Linked DNA regions of Homo sapiens: region 2 is linked to region 1. The links come from fine-mapping of genetic effects on plasma protein levels. Region 1 holds a variant in brackets. A gene starts in the other region. All regions are shown on their forward strands.

Evidence for each region. PIP is the posterior inclusion probability: the model's chance that the variant is causal. The UK Biobank Pharma Proteomics Project read protein levels with antibody pairs (Olink). The fine-mapping took linkage between variants from a reference panel, not from the people measured, so its PIPs are less certain.
Region 2: it holds the start of GPRC5C, and the variant in region 1 is fine-mapped to the plasma level of the GPRC5C protein (UK Biobank, PIP above 0.99).

The regions. Positions count from the first base shown.
Region 1 is chr20:3,688,814-3,694,318 of GRCh38, forward strand. It overlaps SIGLEC1 (sialic acid binding Ig like lectin 1), which reads right to left. Exons shown (of 22, transcript NM_023068.4): 13 at 5,408-5,505; 14 at 4,634-4,885; 15 at 4,049-4,318; 16 at 3,708-3,959; 17 at 3,090-3,389; 18 at 2,527-2,787; 19 at 1,149-1,451; 20 at 787-889; 21 at 342-414. Among named protein-coding and RNA genes, the nearest start is that of ADAM33, 9.6 kb to the left of the region's middle. The variant C/T (reference allele first, on the strand shown) is at 2,586.
Region 2 is chr17:74,429,884-74,434,883 of GRCh38, forward strand. It overlaps GPRC5C (G protein-coupled receptor class C group 5 member C), which reads left to right and starts at 2,205. Exons shown (of 4, transcript NM_022036.4): 1 at 2,205-2,258. RefSeq lists a silencer at 1,078-1,217.

The DNA.
Region 1 (5,505 bases):
CTTCTGCCCAGGTGACGGGCAGGCTTGGGAGTGGGGAAGAGGCCTCAGAACAAAGGTGGGGGAGTCAGAACATACGTGTCTTGGAAATGGAGGGGATGCTGCCAAGTCCAGAAAGTCTCCCCTAGTCCTCTAAGCCAGCCGCCAGCTGACACAGGGATTCCCTCTGCCCCGAGCAGAACAGGGCTCTCCTATCTCCTGAGGGGCTCCTGGTTCCCTGCACACTCTCCCCAACCTCCCCTTGGTCCCAGGCACCATCCTCTAAATGACAGCAGTCTCCAGATGCCAGTTGGCACTGTGGGTTAGCTGGGTATTATATCTGCCCGTGTGTGTTGAATGGATACCTGCGTGGTCTCTTTCTGAAAAGCCATCTCCACCGAATTCTCGCCCATGCTCTGCTTACAAACACGCCTCCTTCTGCAAGGCCCGGAGTGGACTCAGAGAGCCTCTCCCCTCCCCACCTCCTGCCCCCATTCCTCTCCCGCTCCCCACAGGCTGGCTCCAGACCACAAGAGCGTGGGAACCTCATGGAGAGTGGGTGCTTCCTCTGTCTTCCTCCCTAGCCCTTGCTTTAGCACAGCCAGGGCAGAGAGGAGGAAAGAAGGAAACTACAGCAAGGAGGATTTAGGGACAATTCTAGAAGGGATTTCCAATTTGGAGGGGCAGTCTGGGAAGTAGGCAGCCTGTGAACTTAATAGGAGGTCCTAAAGGACCTGGGGGAATTTGGGGAGAAGACGAGGTGGGCTGCCTTACCCCAATCTTCTGGCCCACTCCCAGCTCCAGACCCACCTCCAGGTGTAGCAGGCCCCCAGGCCCAACAGCAGGAGCAGGAGGCCCACCAGCAGTCCCAGGACCCAGAGCAGCTGCTGGAACTGATGCAGGCGGTGCAGGGCTGGAACACAGAGCGGGACTCAGAGCAGCCACAGCTGCAGGCCCCCAGTGCTTCCTTCCAAGGGGACCCACCCAAGATGACACCTTCTAACTTTTGCTTTATCGCTGAAGCTCTCCACACAAGGGTGCCCCGAGCAATCAGTTTAGAGTCGACAGGCAAATCATGCTGCAGCAGGAGGGATACAGGGAAGGAAGCCTTTGGGCCTAAGAGCTGGGCTTTTGTGCAGAGTGGCCTGGGAGATGGAGCCCCCTCCCCTCACCTCTGACCCCAAAGTAGGTGGAGGTAGAGGCAGAGCCCAGGACATTTGAGGCAGAACAGATGTATTCCCCTTGGTCGCTGGGCCTCAGCGCCTCGATGTCCACCCTCAGGGCATTGGGGGAAGCCAGGACATGGATGTGTGGCTCTGCAGGAGCACCCTGGGGCTGACTGGAGGCCACCAGTCGACTGCCAAGGTGGAGAGTCAGGCTGGCGAGCGGCTCGCTGTCCACTCGGCAATCCAGGATGCCCCGGAGGCCACCCTCAGGCTCCACGAAGACCATCATGGTGGGCGTCTTGGGAGGGTCTGTGGGGAGGAAGGGAGTGTGGTGATTGCAGACAATGACCACAAATTTCTCCCTCCCTGTACCCATGCACAGTGACTTTGCTGCTCCTCCCATTAAGAGGCAGAACCTATTTCCTCACTCCTTGAATCTGTGACTCAGTTTGACCAATTGAAGAAAGAAGTGATGTTGTGCAACTTCAGAGCCAGACCTCAAGAGGCCTTGTAGCTTCTGCTCTACTTGTTGGAACACAACAATGTGGGAAGCCCAGGCCAGCCTGCTGGGCACATGTGGCCCAACTGGCAGCCAGGAGCGTGCAGTCATCTGAGACCACTGGGCAACTGCAGCCACATGAGGTGTGAACAACAGAAGAACTCCCCAGCTGAGCCCAGCCCACAGAATTGAGCAGATAACATGACTTTTGTTTGAAGCAGTAAGTTTTGTTGTGGTCAATAGCAATAGCTGACTGATACAGTGTAGGCCTTGGTGAAGGCTGGAGTGGGAGACCAAGACTGATGAGGGCTTATCGTGTGCCAGACACACTCAGCACGCTTTATTTCTTTTGGTTTTTTCTCTTCTTTTCTTTTCTTTTTTTTTTTTTTTTCTTGAGACAGAGTCTCAGTCTGTCACCCAGGCTGGAGTGCGTTGTGGTGATCTTGGCTCACTGCAACCTCCACCTCCCAGGCTCAAGTGAGTCTCCTGCCTCAGCCTCCTGAATAGCTGGGATTACAGGTGTGTGCCTTCATGCCGTGCTAATTCTTGTATTTTTAGTAGAGACGGAGTTTCGCCATATTGACCAGGCTAGTCTTGAACTCCTGACCTCAAGTGATCCGCCCACCTCAGCCTCTCAAAGTGCTGGGATTACAGGCATAAGCCCCTGCACCAGCCATTTATTTCTTATACAACTTGCAGGATGAGGCGAATGATGTATTCCCCATTTTACAAGGTCACCCAACCAGACAGCGGGAGAGCCAGGATTCCAACCCAGGACTCAATATCCGTGAAGCCTTCACTCTTGGCAGACAGAAGAGGAGGAAGAACTGAGGTGGGCGTGTGAGATGTGGGGAGACTAAGGCGGAGGAGGGGGTTCACACTCACAGAGCACACGGAGCATGACTGGAGCAGAGGCAGCAGCCCCAGTGGGGAGCTCAGCCAGG[C/T]AGTGGTACATCCCAGCTTGAGCACGAGCCACGTGGGTGAAGGCGAGAGTGGGCACAGGCTCCGCGTGCAGCCGCCGGTCATTCCAGAACCATGCAAAGGTGGAGTTGCCCACAGGCCCAGGGCCACCCAGGAGGCGGCAGCTGAGGTTCAGGGCAGCGCCCTCAGGCACGTCCAGGCCAGGCTCTGCCACCACGCGTGCACCTGCGGGCGGAGGATAGAGAGATGATTGGGGATCTGTAGGCCTTGGGGGCTGGAGCCTCTGGGTGGGACCTCTGAGGGGCCTCTGCACATTGTGGGAAGGTCTCAGTCTGACTTGGTATAGGGCTTTCCAAGGTGGAACCATGCCCCCTCCAGTGGGAGCTGTGCCCCCTCCACCAGATTAGGCTTCTCAAGGCAGAGCTTTCTCAGACCAGACAGCCCGCTCTAGTGGGAGCTCCAGCCCCTCTCGTGGACTTGGACCTGAGAGCATCAGAGCCCCTCCTCCTCCCCTCTCTTCCACTCACCTTCTACCTGCAACCGCCCGATGGTGCTGATTGAGCCCAGCAAGTTTTGGGCTGTGCAAACATAGGTGTCATCACCTGCAGGCACATCTTGCACCTGCAGCCGTAGGGCGTTTCGGGCCACCTGGACATGGCCTGTCCCTGATGCCAAGCTGTGGACCCCGCTGCTCGTGGCCAGCACCTTGCCATCATGAGATAGGGCCAGCTCAGCAGGTGGCTCACTGTCCACAGTGCACTGTATCACAGCCATGGATCTGGCCCTGGAGTCCCGGAAGGAGGACAGGACAGCGTCCTGAGGGGCATCTGTGGGCAGGCAGGGCACAGATGGGGACCTTGCTTAGGCACCCTGTACTGCTCATTGCCTAGCTGCCTGGGGTTGGTCAGGCTGAGGCCTCTGGACCAATGGCCACTTCCTAGAAGTGACACCTTCCCAGGAGTCCTGTGGGCAGAGTGCTCCAGGCAGGGCTTATAGGACTGTCTCTTTCTCTAGCACCTATGTCCTCTTTCCCCAACTGCCCATTCCTGGGCCCACTGCAGTCCTTTGCCCACTCCCACCAGAGCCCAGAAGCACCCTCCACCACCCTCCTCCTGGGCAGCCCTGGCCAAGGACCCTCTGCTCACAGAGGACTTGCAGGGCAGCAGGACGGGAGCTGCGGGTGCCCTGGGCATCCTGGGCCTGGCAAGAGTAGGCGCCTGCATGAGCCCGCGTGGCCACCAGGAATGAGAGTGAGGCAGCTGGACCCTCCTGCAGCCAACGACCGTTGTGGTACCAAGTATAGAGTGTGGGTGCGTGGGCAGCAGGGTCCGCACAGGTCACTGTGATGGGGGCACCTTCAGGCACGGCAGCCTCCGGAGCCAGGATCACCCGCACACCTGTGCCAAGGAGGCCAGGATCAGCCGGGCCCAGCCGGACACCACAGTGGGCTTCCATCCCAGTGGGCTTGGCCTAGGCCCTGCCTTACCCTCCAGCCGCAGCTCCAGGGACGTGTTGGCCTGGCCCAGAGGGCTGCGGGCAGAGCAGCTGTAGAAACCCTCATCCCTGGGCTGTGGCCCTCGCAGCTCCAGGCGCAGGGTGTTGGGGACAGAGGCTGCTGTCGAGGAGGCCAAGAGGCGACCGGCGTGGCTGAGGGCCAGCTGGGCGGGCGGGCGGCTGTCCACAGTGCACAGTACCAGGGCCAGCTGCCCGCCATGGCTCTCCAGGAGGTAGGTCAGGCGCAGGTTGCGGGGCGCGTCTGCAGGGCATGAGAGGCTTACACGGAGTCACAGGCAGCAGCCTGCAGGAGGCCAGTTTGCAGGTGGCATTCAAACTCAGGAGGGCCCTGGCTCCCCACCCCTATGGCTCCCAACCACCCAGTCTGAGGCACTGCTCCTCTGCCCAGACAGGACTCACCCCAGCGCCCCCTACTCTTAATGCTCCTTGCCCAGTGCTCCACTAGCTACTGGGTACCGAGTTCCCCACTGGACACCTGTCGGGTTCCGGCCATGCCGTGATCCCTGTGGGCTTCTGTCATTCCTGTGAGTCCCACCCTGCATCCAGCCAGACTCACAGAGGACGTCCAAGGTGATAGGTCTGGAGAGGCGGGGTGCCCGACCAGGGGGGCCCACACCGCAGCGGTAGGAGGTGGCATCCCTGACTGTGACGTTGGGCAGGGGGATGGAGTGGGCATCCAGGCGCTGCTGCCCATCCTGGTACCATGTGTAGGTGAGCTGGGCCGGGTGAGTGGTCCACACAAGGCAGGTCAGGTTCACCAGCTGCCCCTCCCGCACGGTAGCCCCGGGCCACACCTGCACATTCACAGCTGGGGAGAGGGAGGGCACAGGACACCAGTGAGGGTCTTGAGGCTGTGTACAGCAGGCCACCTGTCTCCATGTGGGTGAGCTACTCCTACTGCTGGGGAGCCCCTTGGCCTTTGGGAGCCTTGGGTGGCCCACCTATAAATGTGGCTTAGAAGTCAAGCTTGGGAATAGCCCACTGGCTCCTGAGTGGTCCCAAGTAGAGTTCCACAGAGTCCTGGAAAGCCCTGAGCCCCTCCCTGACCCTGGCTGGGGGCAAATGGGGAGACCACAGACCTCCCCTCCCCTGCTGCACTTTCTCCTGAAATTCCCTGTTTAGTTTTATCCACTGGGCATACTTGTAAAATTTGGTGTTTATAAAAGGTTCTCCTAAGAAACTCAAGTCTGGAGTCCACCATCGTTAGGAAGGGTGGGAATGGGGACTATTCCCGTGCCCCCAGGCTTCTAGAACCCTGTCCCACCTCCTCTCCTCTTTTAAAGGACACACACACACACACACACACACACACACACACACACACACTGACCTTGAGCGTCGAAGTCAGCTGAGGCCGAGGCCTGGCCCAGGGTGTTGGAGGCCTCACAGATATAGACACCCTCATCCTCCAGCATAGCCCCGTGGATC
Region 2 (5,000 bases), not on the chromosome of region 1:
TCATCGGCCCCAAAGGACTTGCTTTGTCCTTTAAAGGCAAATCCTGCCCAGGAAGTGAGACGGAGTGAACACAAAAAGAGCAAACAGCTCTCAGGAAACCTCCCTACATATCCGCCGCCATCTACCATGCAGGGCTGGCAGTGGGCAGGGCTCCGCTGCTCCGTCCAGGCCTCAGATGCCCCAGCCTTTCCCCCGCCTGGGTCGGGAGGGAGTGGTAAAGAGTTGCCTTTTTGGAGAATCTAGGTAGGGAAAAGAGATTCCCAAAGCTTGAAAATAAATTGAAACAGATCTGCCAGATCCACAATTCATCTTTGGCTTCTTAAGGTCACAAGCAGTCTCGGGGACTATTTCCATTCCACCTTCCTCTAGCTCTTAGCTGGCTTTTCACATATGCTAATGAGCGGCCCCTCCCAGCACACTGTGTTCAGCACCAGTTGCCTGCTTCACGAGAACTAGTCCCAGCCCACAGTCACGGATGCCCCTCGCCTAGGTCTGACCCGCCGTTTGCCTTTCTAGCGTTGGCACTCAACTGCTTGGACCCTACAAGCGTTTGCCTCCCTGGCATGGGGGCCTCTGAATCTTAGGGTGGGAGGTGGAGCTACGGAAGGGAGCCCAGGAGTGAGCAACAGATCAGCAGCAGCACTGCGCCCCTCTTCTTAATATTGAAGAGACTTGAAACAATTCAGTCTTCGCCACCCCAGACCAGCCCGTGAGGGCAAGGCCAGGAAGGGATACAGGGTTCTAGAGAACCAGGGCCTCACCGCCAGCTCCGGCCGCTAAGCAAACATTCCCTCCAGGAGTCCGAGAAGCCGGTGTGCGAGGGGAGGAACCAGCCTGAGGTTTATCGCTCCAGCAACTCCGGGTGATTCATAGAGTTTAGACTCCCGGTTGTCGTAGACCGCGGCAGGCACGCAAACAAGCAGCCCGGGAGATACCCTCCCCTTTCCCAGCCCCCGCTCCTCCACCTTGCTACCCCCTAGCCCGTGACCAGCTGCCTCCCCTCCCCCTCGCGGGCGCTCAGGGTTGAGCAAACACTCCGGGCCGCCCGCCCCGCCACCAGCTGGCTCCGACCGGCGCACCGCTGGCGATCCCCCAGGCAATTCGGCGTCATGAGAACCGGCACCCCGAGACTCGGCGCCCTGCCCTCCCTCCGCGTCTCCAGGGCCCTGGCCAGGCCCAACAACCTCTCCCTCCTCTGTGCGCCTCAGCCCCTACGGGCCTCTGGCGCGGGCTAACTAGGCCTCGCTGCGGGCCCCCAGGACTGCGCACCCCACCCCCCGCGAGGCCAGCAGCCCCGGGGGAAGGCGGCCGGAAAATCTCTTGTTTATCGGGCTGGATAAGTACCAGCCTGGATTCGCTTCCCAATTTCTGCGGTCCAGCTTCAGCAGATTCCTGGGGCCGGAGGGGAAAGGGTGGCAACCCACAGATCCACCCCGGAACAGGGAGTGGGGGGTGGGGCTGGTGGGAACCTGACCTCCTGGAAAGGACGGACTCGGAGTCAGAGCCAACGTGTCCCGGAGCGCAGAGGCCCAGGGGGTCGCGCTAAACACTGTACCTCGGGGAACAAAACCGTGAAGGCTAATTAGGACAAGTCGGAGCAGGGAACGGGGACGCCGGGAGGGGAGAGCGCGCTCCGAGTTGGGCAGAACCTGGAACGGTCACAGGAAACCCGGGCGCGGGGTAGTCGGGCCGAGGGGGACCTTTGCCCACGGTCCAGAGTGGTCTGGACTCGGCCCACGCGTGAGAGGAGCGCTTGGTGACGATCCCACGTACGCTTGGTGACTGGTGGAGGTCCCAGAGAAGGACCGTGCGTGCAAAAGGCGAACCTCGGTGTGCGGTGTGTCCACGTGTGCAAGCTGGGGAGGGGAGGGGGCGCAGAAGGCGTGACAAAGACGGACTCTGTCTTGAGTGTGCGCCTCGCTCCGGCCCGCTCCCAGCGAACTGTGCCTGAAGTGTGTCTCACGGGAGGGCCAGGACGAAGGTGACAAAGGCTAGGTGTCCCCCACGGAGACGCGCCAAGGTAGCCCCGCGCGTGTCCGTAGGCGCGCTCTCTGGAAGACGCGGTGGGGGGTGCGCAGGGCTGCACCCTCACACCAATTGCCCCGGCGAAGGCCGAGCCCAGAAAGTGAGTGCGCGTGAGTGTGCGCGCGCCCGCATGCGGGGGCGTGGCAGTCAACAGCAACAACCCACACGCCGGCAGGGCCAGAAACTCCCATCTCCCTCACCAGCCGGAAAGTACGAGTCGGCTCAGCCTGGAGGTGAGTCGGGGCGGGGAGGGCCGGGCAGGCTTTGTTCCTGTGTAAACGGAGCGCACGTACCTGGAGCGCGGCGGGCGCCCGATTAGCGCCCTGAATGGAGGTGATGTAACGGTGATGCAGGCTCCAGCCCACCCTCGCCGAAAGCAAGGAGCCCTGCCTGGGGACAGGCCCGCGCGAGAGCGAGCAACCCAGCGCGCCTGGCTCAGCCTCGGTCCCAGGGAGAGGCAGGCCCTGCGTCCCGGCCCGGGCCCCGCCATCCCAGCCAGGACCGGGCCTGGCCCAGCGCCCCGCGCCGCGTCCCTCCCACCCCCGCCCGCCCCCCGCCTGGGGCTGGAGTTGGCCCCAAACGCTGCGCTGGAGCGGGGCCGGCGGCGAGTCCCAGGTAAGGGCTGCTGCCTTCCCGCTCCGCCGCCCGGAAGAGTCGGGTCGGGACGGCGGGGAGTGGGCGAGGGCAGAGGCGGGGGGACTGGACATCCTGCGGGCTGGGGACGCCGCGCCAACTCCGCTCGGTCGCTGAAAGTTTTCAAACCCGAGCCGGCTGGGGACTGGGGGGGTGGGGGAGCCCGGCGCTGCGGCTCGGGCTGGAGGGAGGGGAAACCACTCCATAATCGGGGTCTCCAAGAGGAGCCCCTCCACCGCCTGCCTCTCGGTGGGAGTCCGCGGTCACTCTCTCTCGTGGGTGGCGTCCTCTCTGCCGCCTGCTACTGTGGATGTGGAGGGCAGGTTTCTGTGGCCCTAAAAATGGGAGAGAGTGACTGGTTCCCTTGCTCCCCATTCCAGCCACCCAGGGAGCGCAGGTGTAGACCCCAGTACCGTCGACCCAAGTAGGGACGAGAGGGTTCAGAATCCCCCTGAGGGAAGTTTGGAAATTCAGACTATCAAAGCGCCTCCCCTTCTGGTAGCCTGGCCCCTAGATCCCGAACCCCCACTCCCGGCTGGCTTTTCCAGCGTCCTTTGCACCTCCATCCCCAGGCCCGCAGTGTTACACGCTGGAAGACCCAATCACTTACAAACTCCACGATCAAGATCCTAAAGCCCGGGAGAGGAGACTGTTGGAAGTAGGGTTTTGTGCTCCTGGAGCTTCCTCTCCCCGCCGGCCCCCCACCCCTGTGCCTTCAACTGGACTGGGGGAGGGAGTGCATTGGGGGGTGGGGCGCATTCCAGAGTGACATTCCAGAGCAGACCCTTGAAGATTTCCAAGTCTCAGAGAGCTCAGGGCATTTTGGCCCAAATGCCTGGTCTTGGTGCGGGGCAGGGGCAGGGGGATAGGGGTGGGGTGTCTAGGCTGAGGTTCGAGGAACCCCAACCCACCCCCCACCAACCTACACACTGAGGCCGCTCCTTCCAGGCACAGGCGTCTCCTGTGCGCCTTCTTATCGATGGGGTAAACGCCTGAGCGCCCTGCACAGAGGGGTGAGACAGTGGGACCTAACCAGGGACTGGGAGAGACCGATAGGAGTGGAGGCAGGAAGGCTGTCAGTCGGGCCATCGTCTTTCCCTATAGGCTCTTGAGTGTGTGGGATGGGAGGAAGGCAAGTGCTCTGTGGTATCCCTGGGGGAACCTCCCTGAAGAGTGCCCTGGTCACAGCACCCTTGAAGACAGCCATTGGCCATGGGTCAGTGTTGAGTTTGGTTGGCCCTGTGACGCGCTGGAGCTCTCTTTCCAGTGCGGTATCCTTGGCCCTGGTGGGTGGAGGGGGTCTCAGGCTTGTGTGTGGATGATGCTGGAGCGAGGAAGGGAGTTTTGCTCTGGAGAAGTGAGAAGGCCTGGCTGTCTCCCCGGTTGCTGGATGAAGCCACTTGTTGCTGGGGGAAACCAGTCAGGGCTGCTTGGGCCTCTGGGCCTCTGAGCCTCTGAGCCCACCAGGCCTCTGCGCCCCCTGGAGAGAGAAGGAGGGAGGAGGGAGGTTCAGCAACTGGACTGCACTGACTCACAGGAGAGCTGGGGGCAGGGTGGCTGAGCCTGGGGAAAGGCCGATTTCGGAGGCGATTAAAAATATTTGTACAACTGATTCCAGGGAAGTGAAGCAAAAGGCCCTTTTGTCCAGAAAATAATCTGAGGCTGGAGCTGGGCTTCAGCTGTGGGGTGGGGGAGACTCAGGGCGGAAGGAGGTTCCCCTCCTACCCCCCTCCTTGAACCCTCTGAGAATCTTTAAGCAGAAGATGCAACTCCAACATGGAGGGGACAACCCTGGGTGTGGAGAAATGCACCTGGGACCATCCAGAGGTGACTTCCAAATGCCCACTGTGTTCAGGCACAGCACCAGCTGTGGCAGTGGATTCTAGAAGTCTTGTTCACCAGCTTCAAAGACCTTACAGCCCTGGAGGGGAGACACGGACATGATTTGAACGTTCAGGGATCAGAAGGCTCAGTCTTAGTGCAGGGTCTGGGGACCCACAGGAGGCAGAAGTTTCCTCCAGGGTCCTGAGGAAAAGCCTCTGACCAGAGCTGAGTCCATCTTGTCAGTCCCTTAGCCACCATCTTAAAAGGTGGCATTGGGCCGGGAACGGTGGCTCACACTTGTAATCCCAGCACTTTGAGAGGCTGAGGTAGGTGGATCACCTTAGGTCAGGAGTTTGAGACCAGCCTGGCCAACATAGTGAAACCCTGTCTCTACTAAAAATACAAAAATTAGTTGGGCATGGTGGTGGGCACCTGTAATCCCAGCTACTCGGGAGGCTGAGGCAGGAGAATTGCTTGAACCTGGGAGTTGGAGGTTGCAGTGAGCCGAGATCATGCCA